3 separate regions of the Homo sapiens genome follow, and all the other regions are linked to region 1. Evidence: fine-mapped expression QTL. A gene starts in region 1. Each other region holds a variant in brackets. All regions are shown on one strand. Distances are from middle to middle. Region 1 holds the start of RNF141 (ring finger protein 141). Region 2 overlaps RNF141 (ring finger protein 141). Region 3 overlaps IRAG1 (inositol 1,4,5-triphosphate receptor associated 1).

Region 1 (10,522 bases):
AAGTCTGGGGTTTTTAATCAAAATAAGTCAACAGTATAACGGGGGCAACAAGTATGCTAAAATAATCCTAAACTCTTGCTAGAAGCAGGTATCTTGAGCAAGCAGCCTACTAGTCCATTATGCTTTGCAATGGTTAGGCCACACTGAAAAGTCTGTATTCAGCTCTAAGCAGTTGGCTTTAAAGGATACTAATAAATTAGAACATATTCATGGGCATAGAAAAAAAAAGAGGTTTATTCTAGATAGTCATAGTTTGGTAACAATGAAGCAATATAAGTTTGTTTAAATATCTGAGGAGCTGTCATGTGGAAAAACAAGATTCATTTACAGAGAATGGGATGGCCACTAAGTATAGTAAGTATAAATTAGAAAGGCAGATTTCAGTTGATGATAAGCATGTCGCACCATCCAGAAGTGGAAATGGCTGCTACATGTGAGCTCCCTCTCATTGGAAGTATGGAAGTGTTTAGGTAAAGATTAGAAGTACATCTAATAAGTGTTACAGGGATTTTTACCTGGGTGGGAAGTGGAGTAGGTGACCTTTAACCTAACATTTTATTCCCAAAATGAAACTGAACCTTCCTCTAACATTCCTGTACCAATTTAATGAAAATGTAATTAAGATTCTAGTCAACCAGGCTGAAAACTTTGAATAATATCTACATTACTTAACAAAGAAAAAAACTGAACTTTTGAAATATATAGTCTCAATATTTAATATAAATACCTATGATAATTTAACCAACGTGGTATAGGGGAGATAGAATTTCTCTCCCTCTGCTCTCTGAGGTCTCCAGCTGGGCCCAAGAATTAAACTAACCTAAGACAGATTAACAGGAGAAAAACACACAAATTTTATTTAGTAATTTTTATACATACACAGGAGCCCTCAAGAAAAATAAGGACTAAAAAAAGTAATTAAGGCCAAAAGCTTACATAGTAGATTGGACAAAGGAGAAGTAAACTGTGAAAACATGACAAGACACAAGGGTTTGGGCTGGGCCAGTTAATCACAGAAAAGTGACTAGGAAGATAAGGGTTACTTTAAGAAGGCTTCTTTGAACACATTTCTCTCAGCTTTGATTGCCCACTTCTAGTAATGATAATGTCTTCCTCCTGGCATAGAGAGGACATCTTTCACATGGCTGTTTTATCTCCAGCCTTCAGGAAGAATTAGGAGGGTCAGTGGGCACTTCTTACATCTGCTGCTTTTCAATGTGCTTTTAACTCAAAATAATCCTTATGCCAAAGTGGCGTATTTTGCTACCCTACATTACCCACCAAAACCATATTTCAAAAGAAGAGTTAGTTGCTTATTTATTGAGTTATTAATAGAAAATGATCCCCTTTGTTTCAGCATTGTTTTCATCTGCTGCCCTAACTTTGAGTAAAGTTTATAATTTGAGGCAGCATATTAACTTGTTATCTTGTAACTGTACTTGGTATCTGGGAAACTTCATCACTAACTCCTTGCATTAAAATGCAACAGTATCTAGAGACTACCTGAGAGAGCCTGCAGAAGTGGTTTTCAACCTGGTTCCAGAAAGAGGGCTTGACATTTAGTTTATTTTGAAAACCATAAAATATTGATAAATATTAACATCTATCACTATATGGGTGTGAAAATAAGATATGACTCTGTGATCTGCATACAATATAAAACCACAACACAGAGTGCATGTTCACGAAAACAATCTGTTGAGGCCATCCTCTAGTCAACCACCACAGCTTTTCAGTGTCCCTCTTTGGTGACTGCACATATTTCTATCATACTATGACATTCGTTAAGTCACTTGGCCATTTCCCTCTAGTGAGCTTCTTGAGGACAGCAGCTATGGTCTGTCTTCTGGCAGATACACAAGCACTCAATAGATGTTTACTGAATAAATGCAGTAAATACCATTGGCAGTTTTTGTTTTATTATTATTCACTTAGTATTCTTTTGACTTTTGTTAATTTGGTCAGTCATCTATTAGTACTAGGTTGGAGAGAAGCAGAAGTTAAAAATATGTATGAAAGAAAATGTAAAACTGTGAAAATCTGTCATTAAATTAATGCTTATGTAAACTGGGAAACATTTACTATTTGATTTTAACAAGATACTCCCCCCTAGGCCATGCAACAGTGGTATTGCATAGAAACATAATTTGCAAACCACTGGCACAGAATTCAACAAAAGATGAATTTCTGGTCAAGATTTCTCAAAGAACTAGCAGCTCTCATATTATTGTGCCACCTATAACACAGTCATTTTTTGCAAGATAAAAATATGCTTTCAAAAAGCATTTGAAGGATTTTCTAAATAAAGAACTGTTATTTTGAAATGCACAAGATCAAGGATTCCAAAAATGCCACATTCTCTAGTGGGTGGTACATAGTGAATCACTTATTTTTCTAACAAATGAATTGTGGAAGTTCAAATATTCCTTATAAAAATATTAAAATTACATCATGGGTAACTGGCAAAGCAAAAACGAAAAAACTGCTCAAAAACTCCTAAAAATTTAAACCATAATTCATTCATAAAATAACTAAAGCAAAATGGAAAAGGCTGAAAATGCACCAAAATGACTAAATGACAAGTACTGCACTGTAGTATTTTAAAAACCTCTCTGAAACCAGTTCTCCATCAAATTTTGTATCAACCTCACCTAAAAGGATTTAATTGAAATAAACATCAATGATTTTCACTGTCAAGTCAACTTTAACATCAGTAATAAATACCAAGTACTACTGACTGGGTCCCTAAGGATATTATTTACTTTATTACTCATTGTTTACTCAAACTGTAGATCTGTAAACAGATATCAACTTTTTTTTTTCAAGACAAGTTAATATAGATACATAGTGAAATAATTAGGCCAGAGTCACTATAGAGTCCAGAATGCCTGTTCCAGAATCAAAGATCTTGATCAGAAAAAGATACATACATATATATTAGAGAGAGAAGGAGAGAGAAACTACAAAAGGATAGAGTGCCGTACTAGGAGATTAAGAATATGGATTTCTCACAGTAACAGTGTGTTTACTAAATGCATTTCATATTGGAAAAAGCATATTAGACTTGTAAGAATTCTCTCTGGACCTCCCTTGCCTTTTTGGGAAGGAAAGCGTGTTTGTATTTAGATGGGAACCAAGAAGGATCAGGCTACACACATCGAATATAAAGTTCATTTACACCAAATGACAAATATTAATTTTTGAAACATATAGTCATATTCTTGAGAAAAAGTTCTAGAAACTGAAGTCAGGCAATGTGAAAGAAAAGGATAAAAATCCATACTATTTTTGAGCTCTGAATTCAGAAAGCATCACTTCTCAGACGGGTGACTTCGACATGGAGGTGACTAATTTAGGATCGTCGGCCGGTGGCAGCTCATGCCCCCAGACAAAATTCTGAATGGGTAGAGGTCATTTTATAGCAAGAAGAATGGGCAGAAGGGAGTGAAAACGAATAAATTCGTGCTGAAGATGTAAGAATTATAAACAATTGAAAGTGTTCCAGCAGCTTTATATATATGCCAGAGGCAAGAACTGAATTAGCTGGCACCGCTAAATAGGACAGTGTCAGAATATAAAAGGTACACTACCTTTAATAAGGGGCATAGGGATCGATTTCAATAACAATCGTAAATCCACATTTTGTAACGCCGAGACAAATAACTGAAGGAATAATTTCAAAAGCTAACACAGAAGCCTTCTGCTCCTGCTGTGTAATCACTACCTTCTTATTATTAGCAAGAAAACGTTCTTTTCTTAGCCGGGTCTCAAGGTAGCAGCTAGTTTGACAAGGAAAGACCTTTGGGAAGGGTAGCAGCCTAAGCCAATTCATAAGTGTGGGGCTGGCTAAGTAGATCGACGTGGCTATTTCTGAGCTATCGTCCCAGGCAAAAGGTTTCTTATTTGGGTGTCCAGCCCGGCGGAGACCGAGCCCGCGGGCCACCCTAGCGCTCGCTCTGGCTACGCCGCCTCAGCCCCTCCTCAAGCGCACCTGGACATTTAACCAACAGCTAAGTCCGGCGGCCGAATGACTGAGCCGGCGGCAATATTCAAACAACCGTTTTGGGATAGAGAAGGAAAAACTCTCTCCGGGTCCCTCAGAACCACCCCGAGGCGGGACAAGCCACCGCCACCCCGGGCAACTGGAACCCGCCGGGCAGAAGACGGGCGTCAATAGAATGGCCTCCCCAGCCGTCCCCACGCCCCAATCCGAGGCCCGGGGAGGGCGGCGGGGCTAGGCCTGTCTCCCCGCGGAAGCCTGGCTCGGCAGCGGAGGGCCCTCTGGGGTTTCTCTTCCCAGACCCAGAGTCCTGGAGCAGCTAGCAAGGGAAACACGAAAGGACAGCGCCGCGGAGCTCACCCCAGGTTCAAGGCATCGCGCACCCTGCGGCAGCGGCTGCGCTGCCTCAGCCCACAGCTCAGACCTGCGGGTGGCCGCGACTCAGGCCGGGACCCGGTCGCACCTCTGTGACGCAAAGCCCCGCCCCCCGCGCGTTGCCGGGAGACGGCGCCCAACCTTCCTCTGCAGCGCCCCTACCGACCCGCGCTCCGCAGCTCCTGAGGGCTTTCGAGCCCAGATGGTCATCTGAGACGAGAGGTGGCGGCGAAGGAGAGTCTCGCCTGTCACGCTCCCGGAGCAGGGGCTTCATGAGGTGGCCATGGAAACAGCCTGGCAGACTCCCATCTCTCCTGGTGCCATCTCCGGAGCGGAAAGTGGAGCGCCCCGCTGGCGACCAAGGCCGCACTGAGAGCCCTGGTTTGGTCAACAGTTGGGCTCCAAGGTACCACTTCCCAGACCTCCAGCCTCCCCACTGATGATAGATACACAAAGGTCATCTTGTTTCTTTATGAGGCAATGGATTGTGTTCACCTAGCCGAGTTGTTAAGCATAAGAGAATGTATGAAAAGTAATTACAAGGTTCAAAATCCTGAGCTTTGATAAATGATAGATATGATGATGAGCACATGTTAGTGATATTACTGCTCTGCGGGACGTCTGAATCAGTAATTGCTGTCTTTTAAGCATCTGTTGTGTGCCAAATACTGCACTAGGCACTTTACGGGCATTGCTCTTGTTTAAGTCGTCTGGTCAAAGTTGCCTAGACAATAAACAGCAGAGCAAGGATTTTAACCCAGGTACAGCTGACACTGCTGCCTCTATGCTTAGCAGTTAAACTGGTTTTTATGTTTCTTGTTTGTACACCCCTCCTTCACCAGTCACTTGTAGATTCACCTTGTGAAGAGCTAATTCTTCCCTCTAATAATAATACTCTTTGACCATTTACTATATGTCAAACCGTATTTTAAGGACTTTAAAGGTATTAATTCGTTTAATCTTCACAGCAATCCTGTGAGTAGGTATTATTAATACCTTCACTAAGACACAGGCTTAGAAAAGTCGATTAACTTTTCCAAGGTCAAACAACCATTAAGGAGCAGAGCCAGATTCAAACCCAAGCAGACAGAACCCTGAACCTGTGTTTTTAATTCCTGTTTTAAACTGCCTCGGTAGTACGGTAAGACTTCATTAGCGCTAGGTCCATGCCTGTTTGTGCACCATTATTTCCCTGACAGCCAGCATGGTACTTGTTCAATATTTGAACATTTGATGAATATTTGAACACTGGAAAAGGAAAAAGCTTAAAAATGAAGTATAAATAATGATTTAATAAATTCCAAAAGATATCAAATTCAACAAGATTCCATAGTTCAGCCTAATCCGGGCCTGGGAGTTAGAAATATTACTCTGTAAAAATTGCCTTCAATTAAACATTGTATTGGAAGTTCTGGTCAATGAAATAAAAAAAGACAAATATATAAAAGGCATCCAAGTTGGAAAGGAAGTTGTAGCACTGCATTTATTTGCATAAGAAAATTGTGGAATACTACAAAAAAGCTGCTAGAACTCATAAGTGAGTTTACAAAAGTTGCAAGATACAAAATCAAATATACAAAAATCAGTTGTATTTCTATATACTAGCAATGAACAATTAGAAATGGAAAATTTTTAAATATCTCTTATCAGCAAAAAAAAAAAAAAAAAAAAAAGCAGCAAATTTGGGACAAATTTGACCAAAGATGAGAAAGACATGTATACTGAAAACTATAAAATATTATGGAATAGCAAAGACATGGAATCAACCCAGGTGCTTATCAATAGTGGATTGGATAAAGAAAGTGTGGTACATATACGCCATGGAATACTATACAACCACAAAAAGGACTAGATCATATCTTTTGCAGCAACATGAATACAGCTGGAGGCCATTGTCCTAAGCAAAATAATGCAGAAACAGGAAACCAAATACCGCATGTTCTCACTTATAAGTAGGAGCTAAACGTTGAGTACACAGACACAAAGTTGGGAACAATAAACACTGGGGATTCCAAAAGGGTAGAAAAAACTACTATTGGGTACTATGTTCACCACTTGGGTGACCTGGATCATTAGAAGCCTAAACCTCAGCATTGTTCGATATACCCATGTAACAAAACTACACGTGTACCCCCTGAATCTAAAATAAAATAAAAAACATTGTTAAGAGAAATTAAAGAAGACCTAAATAAATAGAGATACATTATGTTCATGAATCAGAAGACTGAGCATTTTTAAGATATCACTTCTGCCTAAATTGACCTACAGATTTAAGGAAATTCCAATAAAAATTCTAGCAGATTTCTTTTTGATGGAAATGACCAAACTAATTCTAAAATTTATATGGAGATGCAAAGGACCTAGGATAGTCAAGACTTTCATCAAAAAAAACAAAGTTTTGGGACTTACACTACCTGATCTCAAGACATTATAATAAGAGCTACTCAACACAGTATAGTATAGGTATGAAAATAGATAGAGTAATGGAACAGTATATAGAACCCAGAGATGTATCTATACATATGTCATCAATTGATTTTCGACAAATATGCCAAGGCAATTCAGTGGGGGAAAAGATAATCTTTTCAACAAATAAACCTGAAAAAATTGAATAGCATATGCCAAAAAACTCTTAATATCTTGCTCCTTTCCTCATACTGTCACAGGATCCTTGGAGTGTTGCTCTGCCAGCCAGAAACCTCTGTGGCCGGTGGCTCCTTTGCCCGAGTTTTGCTCAGGCCCACTGGGCTCATTCTGCCCATTTGGCCTTGCAGGCTGCACTCGGCTCATGCCACTGGCCCAGATCCCATGCCTGCCAAGGACGAGCCAGGCGCAAAGTGGTGAGGGGTGCGTGAGCAAGTGAGCGCGAGGTCTGGCCGCTGTGCACAGCTAGGCACGCCAGCTGTGGCGGGGCGGGTGGCTCCAGGTGCTGGCATGGGCGCTGGCTCCTGCAAAGCTGTGGCTGGACCAGGAGTACCACAAGCGGCTTCCACTGCTGGCACTAGGGAATGTGGTGGCACCTGGAAGCTTTGAGATGCCAGGAAATGCAGAGCCCCCAAGAGGGTGTTACAGTCCTGGCTCAGGGAGCTCTTAGGTCTGGGCTTCTCGAAGTGTCAAAGCTCTTCTCTCCTTCTCTCTTCTGTCCTTCTCATCGCTTGCAACATGGGGAGTGAGGGGGTGTTTCAGCCCTGTTTGTGTTACAGTTCTTTCAGTCCTGCCATTTGGCAGGTCCCAAGTTGTTGTCCCACATCCAGGAATAATGAGGTATGCAGACAATTGGAGGGTGAGTAGGGTGAAGAGGTGCTTTATTGAGTGACAGTATAGCTCTCAGGAGACTCTAAGTGGGTAGCTCCTTTCTGCAGGCAGGTTGTCCGGTTGTCTGCCCAGCTCTCAGCTGAGAGGAGACCCACAGTGGGTGGCTCCTTTCTGCAGGCAGGTCGTCAGGATGTCTGCTGAGCCCTCAGCAGAGAGGAGATCTGGAGTGGGTAGCTCCTACACGCAGGCAGGTTGTCCCCATGTTTCTTGAGTCTGGCTGAGCCTAGGATATTTATGGGCTCAAGAGGGAGGAAGTGCATGCTGATTGGTCCATGGGCAGTAGAAAAAGTGCCATAAGTTCTCACTCCAGTCTGAGGACCTGGCAGCCCAGCCCCCAGGCTTCAGACTCTCAGTTGCCTAAAGGTAGGGTTTCACTGAGGACCCACCCCTTTTTGCCCAGGAGCCAGTCTGCCTCATGCCACTGTCCATGGCACCAAGGCTGTTTGTGCCAGCGGGAGCCTGCAGGCCCACACTGAGCTGCCCTCAGCGCCCCCTCAGCTTCCCCTCCCATGCTCATCAGTGTCCAAAGTCCAGAGGGGGCTGAGGTGGCAGGGGGCTGGCATGTCAGTGTTGCCCCAAGCATGCACACACCTGCCAGATTGTGACAGCGTCTGGGCTTGGCCACAACTTTGCTCTGCCCCAGAAGCAGGGAGAGGCCAGACAGCAGGAGCAGGCACTTTCAAGCCTGTGGGGGCAAGGGGCTTCCTGGGCCCCTGAGAGCACAAGGATGCCCAGGTCCACAGCTGTGGTTGGGCAGCTGCAGCTGTGCCCAGGAGGGTGGGGCTCCCACCCCACCAACTCAGAAGCAGGTGGGGCTCCAGCCTGTTCCTGTTTTCATGGTTCTGTGGAGTGTGCAGCCCTGGCCAGGCCTCCCTCACTGCAGCTTGCATCTTTGCAGCAGCTGCTCCAGACGGGCTGCCACTGCCATCAATACTATATGTAAAAATTAACTAAAAATGGATCATACATCTAAATGTAAGAGCTAAAATCACAAAACTTCTAGAAGATATCTTAGTGACCTTGGATTTCTCAAAGACTTCTTAAAGATGGCACAAAAAGCACAAACTATAAATGAAAAAAAAAAAAAAGGATGAATTGTACTTCATCAAAATTAAATACTTCTGCTTTTTAAAAGACTCTGTTAAGAAAATAAAAAGGTAAGCCACAAACTTGGAGAAAGTATTTGCGAAACATATATTTGGCAAAAGACTTCTAACTAGAATACATAAATAACTCTTACAACCCAATAAGAAGACAACCCAACTTTTTAAAATGGGCAAAATATTTGAACAGACATTTCACCAAAGATTTATAAATGACAAAATAAGTGCATGAATTAATACCATTAATCATTAGGGAAATGCAAATCAGGAAAATAATAAGGTTTCACTGTGCACTGTAGCTACTAGAATGGCTAAAATTTGAAAGACAGATCATATCACATGTTGACAAGGATGTGGAACAACAGAAATTCTTGTATACTGCATGTTGGAAATGTAAAATAATACAACAATTTGGAAAAGAGTTTGGCTATTTCTTAAAAAGCTAAATATACACCTACCACATGATCTAACCATTTTACTCCTAGGTATTTACCCAAGAGCAATGAAGGCATATGCCTACACAGAGGCTTATACATGAATATACATAGCTTTAACTGTAATAGGCCCAAACTGGAAACAACCAAATGTCCATGAGTAGGTGAATGGAAAATAAATTGTGGCATATCCACAAAATGGAATATTACTAAGCAATAAGAAGGAATGGTTGATTGGTATACCTCAACAACATGGATGAGTCTCAAAATAACTATTTTGAGTGAAAGAAGCCAGATCCTCCCCCGCAATAAAAGAGTACCTGTGGTGTGACGCCATTCATATACAATTCTAGGCAATCCAAACTAATGTATAGTGACAAAATGCAGATCAGTGGTTGCCTGGGAATGCGGGAGCAGTGTTGTGGAGATGGGTGGGAGGGTAGTACCACAAAGGAGTGGGAGGAAACTTTTTGGAGTGATGGATATGTTCATCTTCTTGATTTTAAATGATGGTTTCACAGATGCATATGTTGAAACTTCTCAACTCGTACATTTTAATCATGCACAGTTTATTGTATGCCAATTATACCTCAATAAACTTGTTTAAAAAAGACATAGCTAGTTGAATTTTAAAGGGTTTTGTATTGTGGCCTAAACAGTCATGAAAAGTGCTCTGCACAAATTGCCTTCAACTTTGTAAAATAGAGCCATTACTCCTTCTTATATCTCATGGGGAGTATAGTGAGGATTGACAAGGAAAAGACTAAAAGACTAAAATATTTAAAATCAGTATTAAATTAATATTATTAATGACATCTCTAGATACCTTCTCATCACAACAGCTTTCTTCTTCTTACCTTTGCATGAGCATAATGAATTAATTAGAATGTAAAACAGAACAAGACAGTAATAAAGATTATCTTAAAAAACAAAATAGAAGAGATTAGAAATCCTCTGTGGAATAGGAATTTTGAAGCTACTTTGCAGCAGAATAAGGAAAACTTTATTTTTCTTACATATAAAAAAGTATAAGAAAAATATTTGTAGGAAACCACATATATAAATAGTAAAAGTTATGGAAGAAGAAACCTCTAAGTTTTTTATAAGAAGAAGGATCATTTTGCCATGAGTCTTGTAATTTGTAATGTATGTTCAGATTTTCATAGTTTTTTAAATAAGTATTTTCCAGTTAAAGAAAACACAGAGGCTTTGATAAATTCTAGTAAACATGGTCCTGTAGTCAAGATCAGGAAAATTGGAGACTTTTGGAATGGTATATTTTTTCTTCCATTTAT
Region 2 (10,522 bases), 29 kb before region 1:
CCTTGTTGATATGGACTCTAGAATAGGATTGCGCTGTTATCCCTAGGGTAACTTGTTCCGTTGGTCAAGTTATTGGATCAATTAAACGTGGTAATTCGCTTTGACTGGTGAAGTCTCGGCATGTGTTGCTCGGAGGTCGGATTGTGCTCCGAGGTCGCCCCAACCGAAATTTTTCACGCAGGTTTGATAGTTTAGGGCCTGTGGACTTGTTAAGTGTTGTTTGCGTTAATGAATTAAAGCTCCATAGGGTCTTCTCGTCTTGTTATACTATGCCCGCCTCTTCACGGGCAGGTCAATTTCACTGGTTGAAAGTAAGAGACAGCTGAACCCTCGTGGAGCCATTCATACAAGTCCCTATTTAAGGAACAAGTGATTATGCTACCTTTGCACAGTTAGGGTACCGCGGCCGTTAAACGCATGTCACTGGGCAGGCGGTGCCTCTAATACTGAGAATGCTAGAGGTGATGTTTTTGGTAAACAGGCGGGGTAAGATTTGCCGAGTTCCTTTTACTTTTTTTAACCTTTCCTTGTGGGCATGCCTGTGTTGGGTTAACAGTGGGGGTAATAATGGCTTGTTGGTTGGTTATAGATATTGGGCTGTTAATTGTCAGTTTAATATTTTGGTCTGATGTAGGCTTATGCGGAGGAGAATGTTTTCATGTTACTTATACTAACATTAGCTCTTCTATAGGGTAATAGATTGGTCCAATTGGGTGCAAGGAGTTCAGTTATGTGTTTGGGATTTTTTAGATGACAGGTGTCGAGCTTGAACGCTTTCTTAATTGGTGGCTGCTTTTAGGCCTACTGTGGGTATTAAATTTTTTACTCTCTTTACAAGGTTTTTTCCTAGTGTCCAAAGAGCTGTTCCTCTTTGGACTAACAGTTAAATTTACAGGGGGATTTGGAGGGTTCTGTGGGTAAATTTAAAGTTGAACTAAGATTCTGTCTTGGACAACCAGCTATCACCAGACTCGGTAGGTTTGTCGCCTCTACCTACGAATCTTCCCACTATTTTGCTACATAGACGGGTGTGCTCTTTTAGCTGTTCTTAGGTAGCTCGTCTGGTTTCGGGGGTCTTAGCTTTGGTTCTCTTTGCAAAGTTATTTCTAGTTAATTCATTATGCAGAAGGTACAGGGATTAGTCCTTGCTGTATTATGCTTGGTTGCAATTTTTCATCTTTCCCTTGCGGTACTATATCTATTGCGCCGATTTACAATTTCTATCGCCTATACTTTATTTGGGTAAATGATTTGGTTAAAGCTGTTCGGTAGTAAGGTGGAATGGGTTTGGGGCTAGGTTTGGCTCAGAGCGGTCAAGTTGAGTTGAAATCTCCTAAGTGTAAGTTGGGTGCTTTGTGTTAAGCTACACTCTGGTTCGTCCAAGTGCACTTTCCAGTACACTTACCATGTTACGACTTATCTCCTCTATATAAATGCGTAGGGGTTTTAGTTAAGTGTCCTTTGAAGTATACTTGAGGAGGGTGACGGGCGGTGTGTACGCGCTTCAGGGCCCTGTTCAACTAAGCACTCTACTCTTAGTTTACTGCTAAATCCACCTTCGACCCTTAAATTTCATCAGGGTTATCGTAGTTTTCTGAAGTAGAAAATGTAGCCCATTTCTTGCCACCTCATGGGCTACACCTTGACCTAACGTCTTTACGTGGGTACTTGCGCTTACTTTGCGGCCTTCGTCAGGGTTTGCTGAAGGTGGCGGTATATAGGCTGAGCAAGAGGTGGTGAGGTTGATCGGGGTTTATCGATTACAGAACAGGCTCCTCTAGAGGGATATGAAGCACCGCCAGGTCCTTTGAGTTTTAAGCTGTGGCTCGTAGTGTTCTGGCGAGCAGTTTTGTTAATTTAACTGTTGAAGTTTAGGGCTAAGCATAGTGGGGTATCTAATCCCAGTTTGGGTCTTAGTTATTCTGTGTTCAGATGCATTAAAGCCACTTTCGTAGTTTATTTTGTATCAACTGGAGTTTTTTACAACTCACATGAATTTTAGCTTTATTGAGGGGAATTGATCTAAAACACTCTTTATGCCGGTTTCTATTGACTTGGGTTAATCGTGTGACCGCGGTGGCTGGCACGAAATTGACCAACCCTGGGGTTAGTATGGCTTAGTTAAACTTTGGTTTATTGCTAAAGGTTTATCACTGCTGTCTCCCGTGGAGGTGTGGCTAGGCTAAGCGTTTTGAGCTGCGTTGCTGCGTGCTTGATACCTGTTCCTTTTGATCGTGGTGATTTAGAGGGTGACTCACTGGGGCGGGGATGCTTGCATGTGTAATCCTACTAAGAGCTAATAGAAAGGCTAGGACCAAACCTATTTGTTTATGGGGTGATATGAGCCCGTCGAAACATTTTCAGTGTATTGCTTTGGGGAAGTAAGCTACATAAACTGTATGGGGTGTCTTTGGGGTTTGGTTGGCTCGGGGTATGGGGCTAGCAGCGGTGTCCTGCAAGCTTTTCTGACATCTTTTCTATAGCACTTTGTGCTTTTATTACATTGCTATACTTAATTGGCCTTTTGGGGGACAAATCCCTACTTTCCTTTGTGTTTGCAACTGGAATAAGAGGCAATTAATTGTATACTGGCTTAGGTTTCTAAAGCAACAGTTTTTGAGGCAGTTATCCCTTCTTTATCCTTAAGGGCTCAAGTTCACTTTATGTGTTACTTCAAATTGTACCGCTGAAACCGATCGACATCATTGCTCTTTGCCTCGTGAAAACAAATCACAGCTCCTGGGTTGTGATTTTTCACGGCCTCTTGGATTAAACAAGAGCCGAAAGCACTTTTCTCTTGCTTTCTCTTTACTTCTGAGTGTTGGTGAAACAATATTCTTCATTTCCTGCGTTTGAGACATGACTGAAGGTGATATACCCAAATACTCTGCCTGAACTATGATCATTATAAAGAACAAGTGTAACTAGGGGAATACTAACCAGATAAACAGTTCCTTGGAAATTTTTGCAATTAGTAAGATAGAAGATGACAGAGAGTAAGACTATAAACAGCTGCAAGCGTGTCAAAACCTATCTCTGCAAAGGCTTTTATGTATTTTGACAGTAAAATGTGCATTTCTCCACAGTATGATGATACAGTCAATTTAACTACCAACTGCCACTCATTCTTATGTCCTTGCACTTTTCAGCACTAAGATTCTACGATGTTTCTCTAATTACATTCTTATATTTTGGAAATGATTTTACAAGGTAAACAAACTACAATAGGGTTGAGCATTTTATTTTTGCTGTCTGTTGGGGTAGGGGTCCACAACCCCTGGGCTGTGGACAGTACTGGTCTGCTGCCTGTTAGGAACCAGGCCGCACAGCAGGAGTTGAGCCGCGGGCGAGTGAGTATTATTGCCTGAGCTCCACCTCCTGTCAGATCAGCAGCGGTATTAGATTCTCAAGGAGCATGAACTCTACTGTGAACTGCGCATACGAGGGATCTAGGTTGCATGCACCTTATGAGAATCTAACTAATGCCTGATGATCTGAGGTGGAAAAATTTCATCCCGAAACTATTCCCACCCCAACCCTGGTCTGTGGAAAAATGGTCTTCCATGAATGCAGTCCCTGGTGCCAAAAAGGTTGAGGACTGCTACAGCAGGGTGAATAGACATACGAACAAATGAGTCTGTTGTCAGCTGCTTAGGTTTGTATTGTATCGTCATTGTGTGGCCCAGCATGAATGTGAGTGACCTGTTAACTTCCCTCATCTGCAAGTAGTTTTCTTATTCCCGGATAGACTAAGCTTGACTTCAGACAATAGCAGTTAAAAATGCAAATTCTTCAGACTACCTTTTAATAAACTCAACTTCCCAATGTTAAAAATCACTGAATCAAAAGATATTTTCAAGCAGCCTTTTCTCCCAGATATATATTAGATATAAGGAAATCGAGTCCAATTTGAAATGAATTTTAAAACAGCACACAAACATCACAAGCCCCCAGCGCACAATATAAAATAGTTCTCTAAGGAATATAAACATTTAGTATATTAGAATGTGAAATTACATAGGAAAATAATCTCTTCAATTAGCTAAAATCACTTGCGAAAGATTATTTATTGCACAATTTATCAGTGGGTACTAAGAATAACACAGATCCTATTATTCTCAACCTCTAAATTCAGTACATAGTAAAATTCATTTTCTCAAACTAAGGTTCTATACATAATCGGAGTAAACCCTCTGTTACTGAGTTAGGATAGGGAAAACAAATTCCTTAGAGTTCATGAAACCACTTCACAAATCCTAGAAGGCACACATTATATTTCCTATCATAGTAAGTACATTTAAGTACTTCATATTTAAAAAAGACAAAGCTGTACAGAATACAAAAAGTGTACATTTCATCCATTAAACAAATTTACAACTTTTACGATTAGTTATTACAGTAGAACTGACCTAACATTCACATCTAAATAATTATCACCCAGTTCAATAGAGCGAACAAAGAGCTGTGCTCATTTATTTATTTGATAAGGCTAATAACATTTTATATTCACAGTAGATCAGTAAGTGTCTTGGAGCTCATATTGTAAAATAAAAAGGTTTGGGCCCTATTGAGTCACTGGGCTCATTGTTAAATAACTCCTTGAAAGGTGAAGGATTCTGGGGGATAAAATCATTGGCTATCCCTGGAAAGATCCAAAACTCTGTAAGGTAACTCTGTTCACTTTTCAGAAACATTTTAAAATTAGGTAATCTGAATTAAACTCAGCAAGTCTAATCTAAAAGGACAATTTAAAATCTTAGAGCTGGAAAAGATTTCAGTGGATCATCTATCCCAAGGTTTTCAAAATATGTTCCATGGAATACTAAGAATCTATGGAGGAGATACAGGGTTCTGCAAATTTGACTTGAATTTAATTAAAAAATTTTTTTAAAAAAAACGACTCCCACTATATGTGTGTTACTCACCAAATTCAAACATGCTGGATATCACCAATGCATTAATGTTTTTATTCATTGACTTAATCACATTTATAGTATATAAAGTTTATATAATAAGGAAATTTATAATAATATGACTTTTATATAGTGGGGTATAGGGTATGTGTGTATGCACACGTGTTTAAAGGTTCTGTAAGATTTTCCTTGAAAAAGTTTTTGCTGCTGAAATAGTGTGAAAACCACAAATAAAGTCTCAGTTTCTAAAGTAAGAACACATAAACAAGAGTAAGAGACTTTCTCAAGGTCACACAACCACCAAGTGCATTGCCAGGTTGATATGATGGAACCCCTGGTACTCTGCTTGCATAAACCTCCATAGGGAGTAGTTAGCTATTTGGTACTTAGCTGTCCCATTATGAATGTCAATGGATTAGTCTTCAGTATTTTTGGGGGCGAAATCAAGCTACCCCTGGCCAGATGTTTTTCCTTGAAATTGATTTGAATTTTATTTGCTCGCCTATTAAAATCCTACTATCCAGAAATTCTGTCATCAATAAGTGGCAACTTAAATTGTGTACCCTGGTTTAGGAAAATAGTAATATTTGCAACTTATGAATGATAAGTCAGAAAAGTTACATGGAATGTTAAATTTTAAAGGAGATAGGCCCTTGTTTTATTACATGCCGAAATGTTAATGTTAGAAATTTTAGTTCATAAGCAAAAAAAATGGTTGAGGTGCAACTGAAGATCACAATTCCATTATTACTATATTGTTTCAGAATATTTTAATGGAAAGAGTATTTCAATGGAAGTACAGTGAAACAGTAGGAATGCCAAATTATCTTCTAATTTTCATAAGTATTTTATGTATATACGGTAAAAAAGCCTCACTCTATTTTCTTGT[G/GT]TTTTTTTTTTGATTAGGAGTCTCGTTCTGTCTCCCAGGCTGGAGTGCAGTGGTGTGATCTCGGCTCACTGCAACCTCCACCTCCTGGGTTCAAGCAATTCTGCCTCAGCCTCCCGAGTAGCTGAGATTACAGGCACCTGCCACCATGCCCAGCTAATTTTTGTATTTTAGTAGAGAGAGGATTTCGCCATGTTGGCCAGGCTGGTCTCAAACTCCTAACCTCAAATGATCCACCCACCTCGGCCTCCCAAAGTGCTGGGATTACAGGTGTGAACCACTGCACTGGCCTCTTGTCTCTTAATCTAAGAAATTTGAGGACTCTGAAATCTCAGAAAGATGTTTTCAAGTTAAGGAAATAAAAGCACCATAAACCAATATTAAATGACCTATAGTAATTTAGAAATATAAAATTTAGTATTTGTGATGCAGAATAATTTCCTTCTGAAACTCCAAGATGTGTGAGCATTATCAAAGCCATTTAGAACAGTTACCCAGCTGTGGGAAAGCATTTCCAGAACAGCCAAGAAAATTCCCCAGGAGAAATCCATTTGCAAAGGAAAGTCACACCCAATTTTGTAGACCTCACCCAAATTATACAGTATGGCAAAAACAAACAAACAAACCTTTAAGTACAGTAGTTCCAAAACACACTGCTAAAGTTATGAAATAATTGTGGATCATTTCAAGTAAAAATTATTAAAGGAGCAATAATTAACCACAAGGGGGCATATATATATATACTCCTTAGATTCCAGCAGAAAGACTAGTTTTAAGTAGTAACATGCACGTTGAAGTATTCTACATTTTCAGTCACTTAAACTTTCCTCTCTCAGATGGCTACAACTTTTTAATATTCGAGGTTTATTTTATATCTAAGTAAAAAGATTCCAGAATACTCCTGCCCTGCAAAACAGTAGTGTTTTAGAAGCCTCTGGAAGTGTTGCTGTTACCTTTAGCAAAGAATTCAAGAGCTATTAGTTGTAATAATACAAATTTGAACAGATAAATAATAGGAAAATATGGTCTAAAACAGTAGCAAATTTTAGTACCACAAATGGAAGACATGGGAAGTTTATTTTTAAAAGGGGGACAAATGATCAGAATAGCAAAAATAAAAGAGTGGGGAAAATGGATTTTCCTGTGTCTGTGCCAGTGCCACAACCCTACATTCTTCCCCCATGACCAAATATTTGAGCCCACAATAGCAACAGAAGACTTTCACTTCAAGGTCATGGCCTGTGGGGCTGGCCTGCCTCATCAGCCATGTTAAGAATATAGTTAGCCATATCATCTTCAGTGGGTGCATCTGATACCACCCAAGATTCATTTGCTCCAGTCATCTGTAGGCGACAAATAGGGCAATTCCTGTGTCGATCACTCCTATTAGAGAAGTCAAAACAAAACAGTTTGCTTTCTTCTTTTTTAAAAACAGGATTTTATTTAAAGTAATACATGCACATGGCTTTTAAAAAGGAAATAGCATAGAAATATATAGTGAAAAATAAATCCCTCCCTCCTATCTCAATCTTCAATTCTCTTTCCCAGGGGCAACCACAGTTACCAGTTTCTTATATATTCCTCCAGAGATAGACTAAGCTGGATTAAGCTTATGTGTACACACATGCACGCACGTGCACACACACATTTCTCCACTTGTCAATATATCTTACAGACTAGTATGTATCAGCACCTGTTAGAGCTGTTTATTCTTTTTAACATACACTGTATCGCTATGCCATAATTTGTTTAACTAGTCTCCTGCAGAAGGACATTTAGTTTTTTTTCCCATCTTTTGTTGCTACCAACAATGCAGCAATTCGCATCCCCATACCTAAACAGGTAAAGTATTCCTTTATAATAAAAATTCCTTCTGAGTCCCAAGAGGAAATTCCCTCGCATCAATGGAAGATTTGGTCAAAGTGTCAAGTATAAATGCTTATTCGTGATTATTTAAATGGAAGCCATTACTCTAGGAATAACTTCTTGGCAGTGGCAGGGGAATATGACAAGAAGAAAGGATATTATTAATTATTTTTCTAAGAAATATCTACATGACTTTCAACAATATATCTACCTGTTGCTTGCTTAAAGGTCTGAAAAAATTCCTATGGCTCATAAGCAACAGGAAGACTTATATAAAAATGGAGCATACAAAGTTAAAAGATAAACTTTACATGCACAGTAATTTTTCTGGCAGGGGAAGAACTCATATATGATCACTTAAATAAGATTATGTTTTCGAAAAGGATTTTTTTCTGGTCAAACATTATTTTGGTAATTTAAAAAATACCGTATTTGAGCCAGAGACATATTATGCAGAGAAAAATGTTTTTCTTTTCATCTCTCAGTGAAATCTGGGACCAAAGTAATTATTTGTATCAACTGCTCTTTGGCTTTTATGCAAAAATTTAGAACTCTGTTCCAAAAACTAAATGTGAAAGCTACAGCTGGCATATATTATTTAGGTTGATTTCTAGTTCTTCAGAGGTATTTTACAAGATAATTATATGTATGCTCTTCTGTGCACAAAACATCACAATTTAAAAATAGTCAACTTCTGTTTCCAACCAACAGAGGCTAGATTTATCTTCCCACCTAAAATTACTAAAACAATGGTTTCATACAATCTTTCAAATAAAGCACTGGCCATCAGACAACAAAGGACAGTGATCCCTGGGACATGGGAGTCAAAGAAGGTGAGACCTATACTTGCCTCAGCTTACAGCCTCGAGAGTTTCTAGCCCCTGATCAAGAAGCGGGAAGCTTGATGGAACATGGCAAACTCCCTGAGCTGAACACACAGAGCTGAGAATCTTGGGGGGCCAAACAGCTAGGGTTTACAGGGCAGGGTAATGGAAAGCTGCACAGAGGGAAAATTCCAGAGGTCTACGGAAGTGTCCCCGCCAGAATACTCAGCAGAGTGCTGATCAGTGTGTGCATGTGAAGACACTACCGAGGCTGAACAATCAATCAAAGGGCTTTGAGGGGATAGTCCCCTAAAGCTCACTGGGCCTGGGATACTGCCTGTTTCACCAGCCAGACTGGAAAACCTCATAACTCTTGGGGTATCAGTAGAGTTCTCTAAAGGGTCTTGCTATTAGTGGGACATAATTAGTTCTAAACTAAATACTGCTCTGGTCCTGCCTAACAAATCACAAAAGCAAGATCCAAAAGAATCAAACTGTTTCCAAGTCACTTAACTATAGTCCAGAAAAAAAGCTCAAGAATATTCATAGGAATACAAAAATATCCAATACCCAAAAAGGTAAAATTCACAAAGTCTGCCACAAAGTCTGGCATCCAGTTGAGAACTACCAGACATACAAAAAAGCAGCAGAAAAATATAATCTATAATAAAGAGAAAAATCAATCATAACCACCCAGAACTAACACAGATATTAGAATTAGCAGATAAAATGGAAAGTTATTATAGCTATATTCTATATAGTTAAAAAACTAGAGGAAAGCTCAAAGATAGTAAGAAGAGACATGAAAGATAATAAAAACCCAAATCAAACTTCTAGAAATGAAAATTATCTGAGGTTAAAAAAATACACTGGATAGAATTAATGGCAAGTTAGACATTGAAGAAAAATGGTGAATATGAAAAGAGATAGCAATAGTAACTATCCAGGATGAAACCCAGAGAAAGACTCAAAAAAGAAAGAAAAAAATAGCACCAGTGAGCTGTGAGACAACTTCAAGTGGGCTAATACATGGTAATTGGAATCACAGGAGAGGGGAGAGAAGATAGAAAAAAATCTGAAAAAATAATGGCTGAAAAATTTCCAAATTTGATGACACCGTAAATCAACAAATCCAAGAAGCTCAATAAACCCCAAGCACAAGAAACATGAAAAAACTACTCTAAGGCACATCATAATCAAAGTGCTCAAAACCAGTGAAAAGAAAACAACCTTAAAAACAGAGGGAAAAAATGGCACATTACCTACAGAGGAAAAAAGGATGACAGAGTTCTCATTAGAAACAATGCAAACAAGATGAGTGTGAAGCAACATTATTAACATACTGAAAGAAAAAATACTCTCAAGTCTAGAATTCTGAATCAGAAAAAAAGTCTTTGAAAAATGATATTCGGACATTCAAGAAGAGCCTATGGAATCTACAAAAATACTACCAGAACTGATACATGAGTTTAATAAGGGCGCAGGATACAAGGTTGATATACAAATATCTATTGTATTTCCATATACTAGTATCAATCATAAATTGAAATTTTAAATACCATTTAAAATAGCATAAAACTATGAAATACTTGGGGATAGATGTCAAAGATATGCAACACTGAAAACTAAAAAAATTGGTGACAGAAATTAAAGAAGACCTAAATAAGTGGAGAAATATACAGCGTATGTGGATAGGAAGATGCACTAGTAAGAAATTCACTCTCCCTAAATTGATATATTTATTCAATGCAATCTCATATGCTGCTAGTGGGGGTGTAAAATGGCACAAGACTGCTTTGGAAAATAGCTGGCAGCTTTTTAAAAAGTTAAACACACACATACCATATGATCTAGCCATTCCATGTCTAGGTATTCACCCAAGAAAAAAACCAAAATACATCCATAAAATGACTTGTCCATGAATGTATCTAGTACCTTTATTTTGTAATAGATAAATATGGAAAATAATCTAATTTCCCTCAATAGGTGAATAAACAAGCTATGGTATCCACATAACAGACATTACTCAGCAA
Region 3 (10,522 bases), 78 kb after region 1:
AACAGAACAAAGCCCTCAGAAATAATACCACACATCTACAACCATCTGATCTTTGACAAACCTGACAAAAACAAGAAATGGGGAAAGGAGTCCTATTTAATAAATGGTGCTGGGAAAACTGGCTAGCCATATGTAGAAAGCTGAAACTGGATTCCTTCCTTACACCTTATACAAAAATTAATTCAAGATCAATTAAGGACTTCAATGTTAGACCTAAAACCTAAAAACCCTAGAAGAAAACCTAGGCAATACCATTCAGGACATAGGCATGGGCAAGGACTTCATGTCTAAAACACCAAAAGCAATGGCAACAAAAGCCAAAATTGACAAATGGGATCTAATTAAAGAGCTTCTGCACAGCAAAAGAAACTACCATCAGAGTGAACAGGCAACCTACAGAACAGGAGAAAATTTTTGCAATCTACTCATCTGACAAAGGGCTAATATCCAGAATCTACAAAGAACTCAAACAAATTTACAGGAAAAAAACAACCCCATCAAAAAGTGGGCAAAGGATATGAACAGACACTTCTCAAAAGAAGACATTTATGCAGCCAACAGACACATGGAAAAATGCTCATTATCACTGGCCATCAGAGAAATGCAAATCAAAACCACAATGAGATACCATCTCACCCCAGTTAGAATGGCGATCATTAAAAAGTCAGGAAACAACAGGTGCTGGAGAGGATATGGAGAAATAGGAACACTTTTACACTGTTGGTGGGACTATGAACTGGTTCAACCATTGTGGAAGACAGTGTGGCGATTCCTCAAGGATCTAGAAGTAGAAATACCATTTGACCCAGCCATCCCATTACTGGATATATACCCAAAGGATTATAAATCATGCTGTTATAAAGACACATGCACACGTATGTTTATTGCAGCACTATTCACAATAGCAAAGACTTGGAACCAACCCAAATGTCCATCAATGATAGACTGGATTAAGAAAATGTGGCACATATACACCATGGAATACTATGCACCCATAAAAAAGGATGAGTTCATGTCCTTTGTAGGGACATGGATGAAGCTGGAAACCATCATTCTCAGCAAACTATCGCAGGGACAAAAAACCAAACACCGCATGTTCTCACTCATAGGCGGGAATTGAACAATGAGAACACTTGGACACAGGAAGGGGAACATCACACACCGGGGCCTGTGGTGGGGTCCGGGGGATGGGGGAGGGATAGCATTAGCAGATATACCTAATGTAAATGACGAGTTAATGGGTGCAGCACACCAACATGGCACATGTATACATATGTAACAAACTTGCACGTTGTGCACATGTACCTTAGAACTTAAAGTATAATAATAAAAAAAAGTATATTACTAAGTGAAAAAAGCAAGGTTTGGAACACCTTGTATAATATACTACGATTTATGTTTAAAAAATCCACTTTTGGCTGGGCGCGGTGGCTCTCGCCTGTAATCTCAGCCCTTTGGGAGGCCGAGGCGGGCGGATCACGAGGTCAGGACATCGAGACCATCCTGGCTAACGTGGTGAAACCCTAGCTCTACTAAAAATACAAAAAATTAGCCCGGCGTGGTGGCGAGCGCCTGTAGTCCCGGCCGAGGAAGGAGAGCGGCGTGAATCCGGGAGGTGGAGCTTGCAGTGAGCTGAGATGGCACCACTGCACTCCAGCCTGGGTGACAGTGAGACTCCATCTCAAAAAAAAAAAAAAAGAAAAATCCACTTTTACATATATGTCTATATTTAGAAATGCTTGGAATATATCTAGAAGTTACACTAAAACATAGTGACAGTGGTTGCCTCTGCTACTGGGGGACAGAGATGTAATGAGACTTACTTTTTCCTATGTCTCATTTTGTACTTTTTGAATTTTGTACTATGGACATGATTATTTATAAAAATTGAATTAAAACTCATACCAAAGCAAAAACAAAAAACAAAAAACAAAAAACAAAAAACTACCTCAGTAACTCCAAACCCTTTATGCATTTCATAATACATTTTTTATACTTTTAGAAACCAATTTCTCTTCTTTGGAGGAAGCAGTTACCAAAATTCAGCAAGTCTTATAGTTTCACTTCAAGTTCAATTAAATTCTAATAGTTTTAATTTCAAACAAGTATATCTAGTATAATCTCCCTCTTTTTCCCTTCCTCCTTCTGTATTAGTGGGGAAGGAGGTGTTTAGTGTAAGCTATTTTTACTTTCTTCCTTGTATTTTTCACTATTGGTTGAATTTTTAGATATGAACATAAGCCACTTTCAACAAAAAGTAATAAATTTATTTTCAAATATATCTCCCAGGACTAGCTCATTCCAATGAAAATATTTGTTTCTGACCATGTCAGGGACTTGGAAAAATTACTTTTGGAGCTCTGAAAGATGCTCTGAGTCCCAGGATGGTTCCTAAAAGTCAAAGCTGCTAGTTGGGGATAAACTTTTTTTTACCTCTTTCTTCTCAGGGAGGCCTCTTTCCTGCCCAAGACCTGAGGCTCTGAGTCTAGACTGGGGGTTTTGGAAGGACTGTCCATTCGATGTACTTCTCTGCCTCAGCCTACGTGTCCCTCAAAATCCAGGTCCAGATAGCCAACTACCTTCTAGACGTTGCCACCTGGTTAAGGAGAATAAAAATCATTTCAAGAGCCACCATTTACTGAACATCAACTATGCAGTAGATACACTTTGTCATTTCTTACAATAGTACTGCAAATAAAAAATAGCTTAAACACCTCCTTCCCCACAAATACAGAAGGAGCAAGGGAAAAAGAGGGAGATTATACTAGATATACTTTTTTGAAATTAAAAGTATTAGAGTTTAATTGAACTTGAAGTGAAGTGAAACTGTAGGACCTGCTGAATTTTGGTAATTGCTTCCTCCAAAGAAGAGAAATTGGTTTCTGAAAGTACAAAGAATGTATTATGAAATGCATTTTCTGGAGAAACTGAAGCTCAGCTGAGTTAAAGTGATTTACTAGGGTCCAGCTTATCAGCAGTACAGCCAGAATGCAAAACCAGGTTTGTCTGTTGCATTCAAGCTGCTTTCCGTGGGCATTTGACATGTCCAAACTCAAATTCACTGTCTTCCTTCTCAAGCAAACTCCTCCTCCTGTCTCACAATTCATCACCCTCACAACCATGCAGACAGGTGCCTGGTGGTATTCCTGGTCTGCCTCTCAACTCCATCTCCTCATCAAGTCCTGACAAGCTGATCTCCAATAGCTGTCAAACTATCCTGTCCACATTTACTACCACCTCATTACCTCTCACCAGGCTATTTCCCTATCCTTTTACCTGGTGTCTCCCTGTCTCTAGCCTCTGCTGTTTCAGGCCAGCTCTCACAATCTGTCCAGAAGAATTATTCTAAAATATAGATTTGATCCTGATGCTTCCTTACCTGCAGGCTTCTCTTTCCAAAGTGTCCTAAATGAAATTCAAACTCATTAATTGGCCTTCAAAGCCTTCAATTTCCTTGGTCTCAGCCCACTGTTCCCACCTTGTTGCCCATCTCTCTGGGACGTGTAGCTCACACTTAGTTCACATGACATTCCTTCTGTTCCTGAAGTATGCCAAGCACTAGAAGATGCCTACATGCTTTTGCTTCTGCTGTCCCCCTGCTTGGGATGACTTTCTCTTCCCCAGCTCAAGGTGGCTCCTCCTGAAAACCTTCCCTGACTCAACCCCACTGAGCTAGCTGCTTCTTCCTCTTTGTTCCCAGGTACTTTATGGCCTGTTAAAGTTTTATCACAATTTATCGTAGTGACTTTGTCTATTCTTATGTTTCCTCTCCTAGACAGTGAGCTTATTCGTTCATACATTTGTTTAATGTTTATTGAGTGTTTACTATGTCCCTGGCAATGAGCTGGGAGCTAAGGATACAATGCTAAGCAAAACTGACATGCCACATCCTCTGGAGCTCATTATTCAGGGGAACAGAGATTAATCAGAGAAACATCCAAACAATTTCACACTGAGAGATTTTACAAAGGAGAAGGGATCCGAAGGTACCAGCAAACCCTTCCCAAGAAAAGTGACATGAGCAGATATCTAAAGATTGAGTTGGGAGTTCATTAGGCAAAGAGGGAGAGAGGAAGAACATTCCATGCAGAAGACAGAATGTGCCATGCGTAAGAAGAGGAAAGAATGAGCTGCCGAAGGCAGGCCAAAATATTGTGAGTGAGAGTGAGTGTGGCCCTAGAATATGCTGGGGAAGTGGGTGGGGTTAACTATTCAGGGCCTTGTAGGTTCTACTGAGGATTCAAGTGCTCTTCCTAAGAGCAGAATGAAGCCTCTGAAGATGCTGAAACAGATTTGCCTTCTAGAGATCCCTGCGGCTGCTGTGTTGGCCATGGTGTGAGCTGGGTTGGGGGTTGGGAGTGCAGGGAGAGGGGACCAGGTTGCAGGCTGTTGAGTTAGCCAAGGGGACTGATAATGGTAGCTGGGACAAGGCCTTCTCCCTGATGGTGGGGCCTGAACCCTTTTCACTTAATGCATCCCCAGCACACAGCCTAAGAACTGGCCCACAGTCAGTCTCACATATTTGGCTTGAAATAACCTGCAACTGATCAAAGATCAAAACAGCATACAATATAGTTCCTGAGAAGGGAACTGATTGGGTTGTTGGAAAGACTAGATGCAGCACAGAAATGAGCCTCCCAGTCCTCACAAACTGAAGGAGAGCCAAAATTCTTCAGACTCCAGAATGTTCTGATAAGTATCTTTTCCCATTTCTCAAAGGAACAGCCAACAACCATCATAAGAGACTGGATTTTTCCCCATGAGTTCATATGCAGGGCTGTATTTAGTGCCTATAAATACAATCTGAGCCAGCTCTCATAAAATGCTCCCAAAGCCTTTTATCCTGGGTATGGGAGGGGACGGGGCTCTTTGATGGGGCTTTCAGAATATAAGAAAAGAAAGTCACAAGTCTGCAAGTATTCATTAAACACGGAGGGTTGCCCACCACATCTCTAGCACTGTGGAGCACAGTGTACAAGAATATCCCATTTGGTTGGCAAGATAGAGTTCTACAACCTAAATGACAGAAATGAAAATGTATGCCAGGTTCCTGCTGGAATAAAGACCAGTATCACATGCAAACATTACAGCAGCTTAGTGAAGTAGGTACTGTTATTAACCTCCTTTAAAAGATGAACAAACTGAAGCGTGGAGAGAATTAGAACCTTGACCAAGGCTATGCAGCTGGTAAGTGATGAAGTCTGAGCTCTTAAGCATCCAGACCCTAGAACTGAGAGAAAATGAGAGGGAGTGTATATTGTTGGACACTGACCATGGTTAATTTTATTTTTAAAATTTGGTGCTTATAGGAGTCACATTCATTTGCCTGATAATTTTACTTCTAAGATCCATCTTATGCCCTATTAATATTGGATAATAAAGTTTTGCTGTAGGTAGTGGATGTCTAAATTGGTATAATTTTGTAAGCTAATCTGGCAGTGTGCACATATACATTTAAAAGTAAATACTTTTAACCAATCAATTGCAAGTCTAGAATAGTAGCCCATGGAAAAAACAGATTTCTATAAAGATCTATGTAAGATAGTATTCATTATAACAGTGTTTTTAATAGAGAAAAAAAGTGGAAATATTATTACAACTGGGGAGAAGTAGTATTTTTATAATGATTGAAATAATAGAAGACTTCTCAAAGGGAAAGATAGGCAAACATGATTATGTAAAATCTTTACAATTCCTCTAAAATAACACAAAACGTATTAAAAAGCAAAAAAAAGATTGAATGAAAATATATTAAAATACAGCCCCCCCCAAAAGAAAGAAAGCCAATTAAGGGCTAATATCTATAATGTATCAAGTTTACATATATTACCAACAAAAACCAAACAAATCAACGAAAAACCCCAGACCTAAATGGGTACACGGGCAAAGATGTAAGAAGTTAAGTCACCCAGTAAGAAAACAAAGTGACTATTTTAACATTTTAAGTTTGAGCTTCCTAGCAAATTAATTGAAATAATAATGAAATTTCACACTAATAATAATAAACTTAAAACAATGACAATTATTGATTATTCTTACTATATTCTGAATAATAAGGAGCAGAAGCAAACACCAGCACGGGTAATGCGTAAGAGAAAGATGTCCATTCAGTCTTTGTCAGTAGCGTTATTCATTGTAAGTAATTTGGGAAATGCAAATGTTTCTACTCTTTAACCTTGTGATTCTCAAGTCTGAACACTTATCTCAAGGGAATGATTTAAAGGAAGAAAAAAGAACAACTAACGGTCCATAATTGTTTATACTAGCATTGTTAATCCTAGTTCAAAGAACAATAGATAGGTCAATACAAGAGGAACTATGCACCCATTAAATCATAACTGAGGAGAAATTGCTGAGTATAAAATAACAAGTAAAAAAAAGAAGCTGTATCTATTCATCAAATCAACTGAAAACATTATAAATATGGGCAAATATTGCAAAGAAGAAAAATTGTTAGTTTTTCAGAATTGATGGGGTTGTGGGTGAAATTTTAAAGTGTTTTTTCCAGTGTTTTAAATATGCTTTAGTAAATTTAAAATTATAATTAGAGAAGTATATGCTGCATTTTCAAAAGATCTCTTTAAAGATGGTTATTTAAAATATTTTGCCCTTGGGAAAAAACACTGTTTGAAATTTTACTTCTGGGAACCTTCTTATTAATGCTGAATAAATAGGTAGGTGTAAGTTACTACAGTTCAGACCAGGGGCTTCCACCATTGTTAGTGACATCCTGGACACATTCACCCAAGAATCCATAGGGCTCTTATGCTGAGACTGGCCCCCAGCAGCTTGAAGCGGGGCAAGGATTTTCAAATGGTGCTCTGTGAAGCCTGGGTCCCTGGAGGTACCTTGGGCCCACAGTCTCAGAAGATGAAGGATCCAAGCCCTTCTATCCCCTTCAACCAGAGCAGCCCCATTTGCATCTCCCCAACACGCTGGCCTCCTACAGATCAGCTTGTCTGAAATGTTGTGCAGCTTAAAAAAAGTTTTAAAACTGTTCATGAGATGGCCAAACCATGAGATTTGGAGTCAGGAGATCCT[C/T]GGGCCTCAGTTTCCTCAACTATAAGAGCAAGAATCCCTGCCCCTCTTAGCTGACTGGGAAGATTACATAAAATCAGAGGTAACAAAATGGTTTATACTGTGGAAAATGCTATGGGAAGTTTATTAATTAAGATTGAATTAAAAGGACTAGGTGACACGGATGAACCTTGAAGATGTTTTACTAATTGAAATGAGCTCGACACAAAAGGACAGATACTGTATGATTCCATTTCTAGGAGGGATCTAGAAGAGTCAAATACATAGAGACAGAAAGTAGAAGGTGATCACCAGGGGCTGGGGAGGGAGGGAATAAAGAGTTATTGTTTTAATGAGTATGGCATTTCAGTTTGCAATGATGAAAACGTTCTAGAAATGGATAGTGGTGATGGCTTCATAATATGAATGTACTTACTGCCACTGAACTGTATACTTAAAAATGGCTAAAATGGCAAGTTGAATGTTATATATATTTACAATAAAAAATAGTCCCCCACCCCCTCTGAAAAAGGGAGTACTATATAGAGTAAAATACAAAAGAAAGTCAAGAAAGTAGAAGATTGCAGAGCTGGTGGGACTAACCCACTGCTTTAAGGAACAGGTACCATATGACTCAGAGAGGAGGGAGATAGCCCAGCAGGAGGGAGATGCCGCGGGGACAGAGGCACAGAGGCTAGAGGGTGAGTGGCCACAGAGAAGAGGCTCTGGGAAGAGGGAAGAGCCAGGAGCCTGGCCTGTTGGAAACACTCATCTCTCTCCACTCACCCATGCCTCTTTGCCCACCTCATGGCACTATGGTTACAGTTACAAATTATTTTCATGTACCTATCTCAATGCTCCTGCCACATCTTTTTAAAAATGTTTCTTTTGAGACAGGATCTCACTCTGTACCCCAGAGCGAGACCCTAGAGTACAGTGGCACGATCACAGTTCACTGCAGCCTTGACCTCCCAGGCTCAAGCGATCCTCCCACCTCAGCCTCCCGGGTAGCTGGGACTACAGGTGTGTGTCACCATGCCCAGGTAATTTTTGTATTTTTTGTAGAGATGGGGCTTCGTCATGCTGCCCAGACTGGTCTCAAAGTCCTCAGCTCAAGCAAGCCACCTCCCTCCCAAAGTGCTGGGATTACAGGTTCACCTAGCCCCCTGCCACATCTCATACAATTTCATTCGTTCATTCAACAAATACCTATGCAGGCCCTAGTAGTGCCAGGCATTGTTGTAAGCAGTGGACACACACACACACACACACACACACTCCTGCCCTTGGGGGCTTCTTCTCTAGGGATAATAGCTGACACCTAGATAACACCTGTCATGTACCAGGTATTGTTTTAGGTACTTTATAGATATTAGCTGCTTTAATCTCCATAATCACCTAAGAAGGCAGGTACTGTTCTTAGCCTGGTTTTACATGCCCAGGGAGGTTGAATAGCTTGCCCAGGTCACCTGAGTGGTAGCAGGGCTTACAGTTCCAACTCGTGGTGGGGCTCGACATACTCATGCAGGAGAATGGGGCCGAGGAAGGGTGTTGGGGGCACTGGGAGCAGGGCTGGACTTGCCCAGCTAGATCTAGAGGGGTCAGAACCCTACTGAGAACATCGGCAGAGGTGAGTGCAGAGAGGGAGGCAGTGCGGGGGCTGAAGCCTCATTTTCAGAACCATTTTCCCCGCCATGGTTCTGGCAGAAGGTGGACAGGGAACCAGAGGCTTGGAGGAAGGGGCCTGCAGCTACCCAGCAGGGCAGGGCTGGGGTATGGACTTTGTGGTGACAGCAGATTAGTAAGCAAGAGATGGCCGTGATGCCTTGAAAAGAGGAACTCTTCAGTTTGGGCAGCTTCCTGGGTGTACGAGGAAAAGGAAGTGTCAAAAGTTCAGGCCTGAGGCACCCTTCCAGGCCCACTAGATGCCAGCATGGCTTAGGGAGGGCTGACAGCGAGGCCTGGGGGCTGGTTGGAAGGAGGCAGGTTTGGAGGTGCTGAGCGGGCAGAAGACACAATCGGATTCATTCATTCACCAGCAAATGTTTCCTGAGGAAGACACAGGAAGTCTTGTGTTTACACATTCACCTTCCTTGATCTGGCACAGACAAATCAGCACTCGCTGAGACAGCATCTGCCCCAACCCCACCTACCTTTTTCCTGCTCAGCTGCTTCACTAAGGTCTGGAAGCTTGAGCCCCACTAAGTTCTGATTTCTCATCAGGATGTGCTCCTTTGTGGTAAAAGAAAGAGATAACAATTTCAGATGATGACACTGGGCTGGGCTGTTCTCTTGGCTCTGTCTATGGTTCTGCGACCACTATCTTAGGTGGGAAAGCGGGGCAGCCTGAGAGGTGGGTGGGCAGGCATGGCATGGTGAGGCCTGAGAAGCACCAGGAAATAGTTCCTCTCCCAGTCCGTGAAGGTGCCTGAAACGCCACTGTCAGCACCACTTTCCATGGGTCAGGGACTACCCTTGGCATGGTCTTTTTAAACAAGTCTGTGGGCTTCAGGGTAAATGAACTGCTTGGCCTCACTGTGGCTGAGGTTTGCAAAGGACACACAGGGGCAGAACTAAGGGCTCTGGGACAGGAGGGTCCCCTGGGTGTGTATGGCGCTGCTCCTGGAAACAGCTTTGGCGATCTCATGGCTGGCTGGATCTTCCTGCCCTGTCATTCCGGGCAGTGACTGCTCACTTCCAGGAGCTGCGATTGCCCCACACACTCAGGTCATCAATGGCCTTTTATGGCACCTCTTGAGTTTTTAAACTCTCCAGAAAAGTGAGGCCTGAGAATTGCTGGCTTAGGGCCTCAGCTGGCAGAGCCCGGGGAGAGATGGGATGTGGCCCAAGTGGGCTCACACCTGCTCTAAGCCAATTAGCACCAGACCAAGGACCTGAGTGGAGGCACCTGGCAGAGCTCCTTGCCCCTGTGACTTATGGATCTTCAGTCTGCTGTGTGGCAGAGGGCACTTGGGAATGGTTTGTCCCCCGAGAAGGGAGGAAAGGAAGGGGCCAGCAGAGGGTGCTCATGATCCAAGTGGAAGTCATGGTCAAGGACCCTTTACCCATTTGGTTAGCAAGCCAGAGGCCCACAGCCCATCAGCTTCAGCACACTGGAGTCGGGTAGGGGCTGGGCACTCAGGTGCCAGGGTAGTGGTTAGTGACATGGGGCCTCCAGGTTCCCTGTAACTTCTCTGGGTGGGCGAAATCTGCAGGAGTGTAGGGAGTGAGGAGGCTCTGATAACCAGAGGCCCATGAAGGCAAATCCCTGGCTATCGGCCCCTTGGCTCCAACTTCCGCTAGAGATCCGGGACTGTGGCAACTCCTCTGGGCCCTGTGCTGTTTGATCCGCTAGTTAGTTGGGTCTTTCTGACTAGGAGGAGTTTTGTGTGTAAAATGTTAACATCAGCAGCCACGCCCCAGCTCCCCTGTGCCTCCAGTTCAGAGCATCATGAAGGTATCTGAATAGGATAGTGGCCAGCATTGGAATGTGTCCCTGCCAGCA

What was found.
Region 2: its variant is fine-mapped to the expression of RNF141 in NK cells (Gilchrist 2021, PIP 0.95). The same link has a PIP of 0.9 or more in monocytes.
Region 3: its variant is fine-mapped to the expression of RNF141 in whole blood (TOPMed, PIP 0.96).

Annotation. Positions count from the first base shown.
Region 1 is chr11:10,536,762-10,547,283 of GRCh38, forward strand. RNF141 (ring finger protein 141) reads right to left here and starts at 4,426. Exons shown (of 6, transcript NM_016422.4): 1 at 4,361-4,426. IRAG1-AS1 (IRAG1 antisense RNA 1) reads left to right here and starts at 4,475. Exons shown (of 4, transcript NR_046375.1): 1 at 4,475-4,781. RefSeq lists an enhancer at 4,502-4,611.
Region 2 is chr11:10,507,885-10,518,406 of GRCh38, forward strand. It overlaps RNF141 (ring finger protein 141), which reads right to left. Exons shown (of 6, transcript NM_016422.4): 6 at 3,789-7,182. The coding sequence ends at 7,032. MIR4485 (microRNA 4485) reads right to left here and starts at 442; the gene lies at 386-442. It also overlaps the pseudogene MTRNR2L8. RefSeq lists a silencer at 1,238-1,532 and an enhancer at 3,095-4,005. The variant G/GT (reference allele first, on the strand shown) is at 5,803.
Region 3 is chr11:10,614,608-10,625,129 of GRCh38, forward strand. IRAG1 (inositol 1,4,5-triphosphate receptor associated 1) reads right to left here. Exons shown (of 21, transcript NM_130385.4): 10 at 9,171-9,249. Among named protein-coding and RNA genes, the nearest start is that of LYVE1, 51 kb to the left of the region's middle. RefSeq lists a silencer at 2,911-3,111 and an enhancer at 8,848-8,977. The variant C/T (reference allele first, on the strand shown) is at 7,042.